Homo sapiens: one gene and its partner. The protein of the gene in region 1 interacts with the protein of each later gene in a pairwise test. Each region holds a gene or a part of one and is shown on either strand. Other genes may lie near its edges. The genes, in order: SHCBP1 and ZUP1.

Evidence for each region.
Region 2: the proteins of SHCBP1 (region 1) and ZUP1 interact in a two-hybrid assay, tested with the Homo sapiens proteins (one large-scale study listed by BioGRID and IntAct).

Annotation. Positions count from the first base shown.
Region 1 is NC_000016.10:46,586,669-46,590,495, forward strand, and holds part of SHCBP1 (SHC SH2 domain-binding protein 1), read right to left. Parts: intron 138-3,827; coding exon of another isoform or gene 90-137; exon of another isoform or gene 61-89; intron 1-60. UniProt on the Homo sapiens protein: May play a role in signaling pathways governing cellular proliferation, cell growth and differentiation. May be a component of a novel signaling pathway downstream of Shc. Acts as a positive regulator of FGF signaling in neural progenitor cells.
Region 2 is NC_000006.12:116,651,621-116,655,447, reverse strand, and holds part of ZUP1 (zinc finger-containing ubiquitin peptidase 1), read left to right. Parts: intron 1-3,255; coding exon 3,256-3,444; intron 3,445-3,710; coding exon 3,711-3,827. UniProt on the Homo sapiens protein: Deubiquitinase with endodeubiquitinase activity that specifically interacts with and cleaves 'Lys-63'-linked long polyubiquitin chains. Shows only weak activity against 'Lys-11' and 'Lys-48'-linked chains.

The DNA of each region.
Region 1 (3,827 bases):
AAACTAGTGTAAGCTTAAAACAAAAATCTTGAAAGCATCAATTAAAATTTTATGCCTTACCTATAGGAGAGAAAATGTGATTGACAGCATCAGAAACCATGGACGTCAGATGAAAGACACACAGTATTGTTCAAGGGCTAAAAGAAAAAAAATTGTCAACCCAGAATCCTATAACCAGTGAAAATATTCTTCAGGAATGAGGAGGAAATCAAGATATTCTAAGAAGAAGGAAAAATAGGAAAATTTGTCACCAGCAGACGTATCTTCATAGAATGACTAAAGGAAGTTATCTAAACAAAAAAGAAATGATAAAAGAGAAGATCCTGGAACATCAAAAAGAAAAAAAAAGAACACAGTAAGCAAAGATATAGGTAAATACAATAAGCTTTCCTTCTCTTGAGTGTTCTAAATTATGTTTGACATTTGAAACAAAAATCATAAAATTCTCTAATATGGTTCTAGATGTACGTACATAAGGCAAATGTTTAAGACAATTATAAAAAGGAGATGGTAGAGAATAATAAAAGGAGGCAAGGTTTCTATACTTTACTTGAACTGGTGACACCAGTAAACTGTTATGTACATATAATATACAACCTAGGGCGACCACTAAAAAAGTTATATGAAGAGATATTCTCAAAAACAAATGAAATTCTGAAAAATGTTCAGCTATCCACAGGATGGCAGAAAAAAAGCAAATCAAGAAATGAAAAGCATAACAAACAGAAAACACGAAATAAACTAAAGATTTAATATCAATAATTAAATGTAAGTGGTCTAAATACAATTAAAAGACAAAGATTGCCAAAGTGGATTAAAAACATGACTCAACTATATGCTGTCTACAACTCACTTCAAACAGAATATAGGCAAGTTGAAATTAAAACAATAGAAAAAGACTATTCAACAAGAGCTAACTATCCTAAATATATATGGGTGCATATAACTATCCTAAATATATATGCACCCAATACAGGAGCACCGGATTCATAAAGCATGCCCTTAGAGACCTACAAAGAGACTTAGACTCCCACACAATAATAATGGGAGACTTTAACACCCCACTGTCAACATTAGACAGATCAACAAGACAGAAAGTTAACAAGGATACCCAGGAATTGAACTCAGCTCTGCACCAAGCGGACCTAATAGACATCTACAGAACTCTCCACCCCAAATCAACAAAATATACATTCTTCACAGCACCACATCACACTTATTCCAAAATTGACCACATAGTTGGAAGTAAAGCACTCCTCAGCAAATATAAAAGAACAGAAATTATAACAAACTGTCTCTCAGACCACAGTGCAATCAAACTAGAACTGAGGATTAAGAAACTCACTCAAAACAAAACTGCTCCACTACATGGACACTGAACAACCTGCTCCTGAATGACAACTGGGTACATAACGAAATGAAGGCACAAACAAAGATGTTCTTTGAAACCAACGAGAACAAAGACACAACATACCAGAATCTCTGGGACACATTTAAAGCAGTGTGTAGAAGGAAATTTATAGCACTAAATGCCCACAAGAGAAAGCAGGAAAGATCTAAAATTGACACCCTAACATCACAATTAAAAGAACTAGAGAAGCAAGAGAAAGCACATTCCAAAGCTAGCAGAAGGCAAGAAATCACTAAGATCAGAGAAGAACTGAAGGAAATAGAGACACAAAAAACCCTTCAAAAAATCAATGAATCCAGGAGTTGGTTTTCTGAAAAGATTAACAAAATTGACAGACCACTAGCAAGACTAATAAAGAAGAAAAAAGAGAGAAGAATCAAATAGATGCAATAAAAACTAATAAAGGGGATATCACCACCAATCCCACAGAAATACAAACTACCATCAGAGAACACTATAAACACCTCTATGCAAATAAACTAGAAAATCTAGAAGAAATGGATAAATTCCTCAACACATACACCCTCCCAAGACTAAACCAGGAAGAAGTTGAATCTCTGAATAGACCAGTAACAGGTTCGGAAATTGAGGCAATATTTAATAGCCTACCAATCAAAAAAAGTCTAGGACCAGACGGATTCACAGCCGAATTCTACCAGAGGTACAAAGAGGAGCTGGTACCATTCCTTCTGAAACTATTCCAATCAATAGAAAAAGAGGGAATCCTCCCTAACTCATTTTATGAGGCCAGCATCATCCTGATACCAAAGCCTGGCAGAGACACAACAAAAAAAGAGAATTTAGACCAATATGCCTGATGAACATCGATGCAAAAATCCTCAATAAAATACTGGCAAACCGAATCCAGCAGCACATCAAAAAGCTTATCCACCATGATCAAGTTGGCTTCATCCCTGGGATGCAAGGCTGGTTCAACATATGCAAATCAATAAACGTAATCCATCATATAAACAGAACCAAAGACAAAAACCACATGATTATCTCAATAGATGCAGAAAAGGCCTTCAACAAAATTCAACAGCGTCTCATGCTAAAAACTCTCAATAAACTAGGTATTGATGGGATGTATCTCAAAATAATAAGAGCTGTTTATGACAAACCCACAGCCAATATCATAATCAATGGGCAAAAACTGGAAGCATTCCCTTTGAAAACTGTCACACAAGACAGGGATGCCCTCTCTCACCACTCCTATTCAACATAGTGTTGGAAGTTCTGGCCAGGGCAATCAGGCAGGAGAAAGAAATAAAGGGTATTGAATTAGGAAAAGAGGAAGTCAAATTGTCCCTGTTTGCAGATGACATGATTGCATATCTAGAAAACCCCATCGTCTCAGCCCAATATCTCCTTAAGCTGATAAGCAACTTCAGCAAAGTCTCAGGATACAAAATCAATGTGCAAAAATCACAAGCATTCCTATACACCAATAACAGATAAACAGAGAGTCAAATCATAAGTGAACTCCCATTCAAAATTGCTTCAAAGAGAATAAAATACTTAGGAATCCAACTTATAAGGGATGTGAAGGACCTCTTCAAGGAGAACTACAAACCACTGCTCAATGAAATAAAAGAGGACACAAATGGAAGAACATTCCATGCTCATGGATAGGAAGAATCAATATCATGAAAATGGCCATACTGCCCAAGGTAATTTATAGATTCAATGCCATCCCCATCAAGCTACCAAGGACTTTCTTCACAGAATTGGAAAAACTACTTTAAAGTTCATATGGAACCAAAAAAGAGCCCACATCGCCAAGACAATCCTAAGCCAAAAGAACAAAGCTGGAGGCATCACGCTACCTGACTTCAAACTATACTACAAGACTACAGTAACCAAAACAGCATGGTACTGGTACCAAAACAGAGATATAGACCAATGGAACAGAACAGAGCCCTCAGAAATAATACCACACATCTACAACCATCTGATCTTTGACAAACCTGACAAAAACAAGAAATGGGGAAAGGATTCCCTATTTAATAAATGGTGCTGGGAAAACTGGCTAGTCATATGTAGAAAGCTGAAACTGGATCCCTTCCTTACACCTTACAAAAATTAATTCAAGATGGATTAAAGACTTAAATGTTAGACCTAAAACCATTAAAACCCTAGAAGAAAATCTAGGCAATACCATTCAGGACATACGCATGGCAGGACTTCATGACTAAAACACCAAAAGCAATGGCAACAAAAGCCAAAATTGACAAATGGGATCTAGTTAAACTAAAGAGCTTCTGCACAGCAGAACAAACTACCATCAGAGTGAACAGGCAACCTACAGAATGCAAGAAAATTTTTACAATCTACCCATCTGACAGAGGGCTAATATCCAGAATCTACAAAGAACTTAAACAAATTTACAAGAAAAAATCAAACAACCCCATCAAAA
Region 2 (3,827 bases), on another chromosome or scaffold:
AGGGAACTATTATCCCAAGTTTGATATTTATCAGTCTCATACATGCTTTAGTACTCTTACCATGTATGTACATTTCCATAAAATATTTTGCAGGTGTTTATATATAAATGGGATACAACATGTATGCTATAAATTGTTTTGCTCAAATATATTGGTTCTTACAGTTCTACTTCATTCATTTTAGCTGCTGTGTAGTATTTCCTTGTATGAATTGTAGCTAACTTATCTTGTTTTCATATTGATAAACATTTAGATTGTTTCCAGTTTTCTACTCTTATAATTTATGAACATGTCTACTTCAGGAGTTTCTCTAGTATTACATCCAGAACTGGATGTAGCTAATTATAGCTAACTTATCTTGTTTTCATATTGATAAACATTTAGATTGCTTCCAGTTTTCTACTCTTATAATTTATGAACATGTCTACTTCAGGCGTTTCTCTAGTATTACATCCAGAACTGGAATGCTAAGTTAAAGGGCGTGCAAATCTTCAACGTTGTTAAGGTTATTATAGAATTGTTTTCCAAAGTGCTTGTAATCTACATTCACACCAGTGTATTTCACACATAGTATGGTGACACTTTTAAATTTTTGCTATTTAACAGGTTATGAGATGATACATGTTTTAATTTGCATTTTCTGGATTACTCCTGAGTTAGTTTCCTCTTGAACGAATTACCTGTTCTCTTCCTTTCTCTATTCTCTATTGAGTTGTTTGTTCTTACTGATTTATAGGAGACTGTTAAGTATTCAGAACACTATTCTTTCATTAGTTATATGAAATCCAAATATCTTTTTCAGGCCTGTGGTTTGTGTTTAAATGTTATATATAGTGCCTTTAATTAGACAGAAGTTTTGAATTTGAATGTAATCAAAGTTCTCAATCTTTCTATTTATTATTTGTGTCTTAAGTAACTCCCCCATCTTTAAGATCACAAATATATACCTTTATGTTTTCTTCAAATATTTATATTTTGCATTTCATATTTTGATTTTAAATCCACCCAGAATTTATTTGCATGTGTATGTTGGAGGGAGGAGGGAGAAGATAGGAATCTGATTATTTTCTCCTTGTTTATAACAGTCCTTATAGCAAGTACATATTATGCTTATTTATTTCACTACCATTTATTGAATCTGCATTTTCTCCACCTATTTGTGATACTATATATTATAGATTTTCATATATCCATGATTCTGTTTCTAAAGGCTGCCTTTATATTTCTTCAGGGGTCTCCATGTAAAAAAGTTCTCACTATAGCATAGAGCATCCTCCAGATGTGTGATATGATTCATTAGGATACAGGAAGAAAATATTAAATATGTCTGTAAAAAAGCACACTGTCCTGTAATATAGAAGTGATTTAGTGGCAGAGATTTTTATTTTTCGTTAATTATGCAAGTGTTAATTTAAGCAGCTATCATTTAAAGAGTCTTCACTTATATACTGCAATCTTGTTATAATTTTAACAACAGAATATAATTTAACTGAAGATAAATTTACTGTGGAAAATATCTAAAGACATTTAGGTGCTAAGGAATAAAAAGTATAAGGAAATTTCCCCCTAAAGCAGTTGCATGATGTTGCTAAGACAGTGTTGCTCTCCATCTGATATGTAACATATATACTAAAATGTACTAGAATGTTTATTACTTTCCTTTCTATTTTTTCTGTCCCCTACTCCACCTCATTCTTAAAGGGCTGCCTCAAATCTTGATCTCTTCATCAAAGTCTATGATATTAAAATCTACATTTAGCTTTCTTTCTCTGAATTCCTAGGGTACCCATTCATTCCATGCTACAACATTTAGTACTCAGTTATATACTATTTTAATTGTTGTTTTTCTTGAATTCAAGTCTTTCTAAGTTCTTTGGAAGTGGTTACAGTGATCAGTATTTCACCTTTTCATGGTGCAAGGCACAGCTACAACTATTGGTTCATTTAACTGTTTTTATTTATTGATCTTTTATTGTCTTTATTAAAGACAAAAACCCATTTTCTTCTAGGAAACCCTTCATTCAAGCAAAAAGAATTTAGTTATTGTCTTTGGTGCCACATGCTATGAGAAAGTTATGGGGCATATAATAAGATCTCCCTACCCATAGGCTTCACAGAGTCTGTAGAGTATGTAAATATACACAAAGAATTATAGTATTCTGTGACTGAATGTTGCTGGTACCTTGGGGACACAAAAATAGGGTAGAATCAGAAAAAGGGTCTATGAAGACAGTAGCATGTGAAGGATCTATAATTTTGAAACATAAGGAGAATATACTAAAAGCAGGAAAGGGGCCGAGTCAGATGTCCCTTGTCCTAACACCTTGTTTTTCCATATTATAGCACTTGTTATAGTTGGGGTCGATGACATTTTAAAGGATATTATCATATTTATCTTTTTGTACTTAGCATTTAGATAGTGCCAGGTGTATTAAAAAGTACTTAGCAAATACTGAATTTGAAAATTTAATAAAACTCTATGGGCCAAATTATGTTTAATGTGTTCAGTTAGGCCACAGCCAAAATTACAGCAAGAAGAGTAGTGTGAAATAAAGATAAGACAGTGGATAGCTTTCTGTAGACTTCATATAACATAGATTAGAACTATTCTAATTAGGTTTATAAGGCTATTAATAAGATTCCTAAACCTATTGTTCTGCCTTAAGAAAAGTTGTCTTCTGTTGTCTCAAACAAATTAATTAATCTCCCCAAATAGCAAAATGGAATATGTTACTAAAGGGTTGAAATTTAGCGTATTGGAGTATGAGATATGTTTATTATTCATGAAGTCAAGAGTTTTTAAATGAAAACATTTGTGTATTCTCATGCTTCGAAAATTGCAAAATCTGCAAAATAAAATCTTAAATTACAAAAAAATTAAAACTATTGGTAATAGGGAGCTATTAATATTTTTTGATTGGGAGCAAATTGATTAAGACTGAGTGATCTCCAGTAGTCTATACAATAAAATGGAGACACAAGAAGAACATTCATTCAACAGTTGTACTTTATGTGCTGGGCCCTGCAGATGCAGAAAATTTCAATGAACTGTAATAAATAATATGCTAGTGTTAGGAAACTTGGACTGTAGTAACAAGCAAGGACACAAACTAAGGTTATAGCAAGAAGAAGGTGAAGAAGATGGAATTAACAGGATTTAGGTATGGTGCGTGAAGGAGAGGTTGATATTAAAAATGTATGAGATAGCAATATAAAGGTGATAATGACTGCTTCTGAATCTCTTTTCTACTTTAGGAATTATTGAAGCACTTCATAGGTATTATCAGAATGCTGCCACAGATGTGAGACGGGTGTGGCTTTCTTCAGTGGTGGATCACTTTCATTCATCTTTAGGCGACAAAGGTTGGGGTTGTGGTTACAGAAATTTCCAAATGCTACTTTCATCATTATTACAAAATGATGCTTACAACGATTGCTTAAAAGGTATGTGAAATCTAGTACTCTGAACTTGTCATCTGATAAAATACATATGATATAGAATGATATAGCATACACAATTAATAGCTTTAACAGTTAGTGGATATTTATATAAGAAACCTGAATTCTGGTTAGAGGAAGAGAAAATGATAGAAGATGTCAGGAATAACTGTCTTAAAAACCGTAAAGTTCCCCGAGTACATAATACACTGCTAAATATTATTCAGTACTTTATTAACAGTCATGTAACATGTTTGCTTGTGTAATTTTAGGTATGTTGATTCCTTGCATTCCAAAAATTCAATCTATGATTGAAGATGCATGGAAGGAAGGTTTTGATCCTCAGGGGGCCTCTCAACTTAATAACAGGTTACAGGGAACAAAGGCCT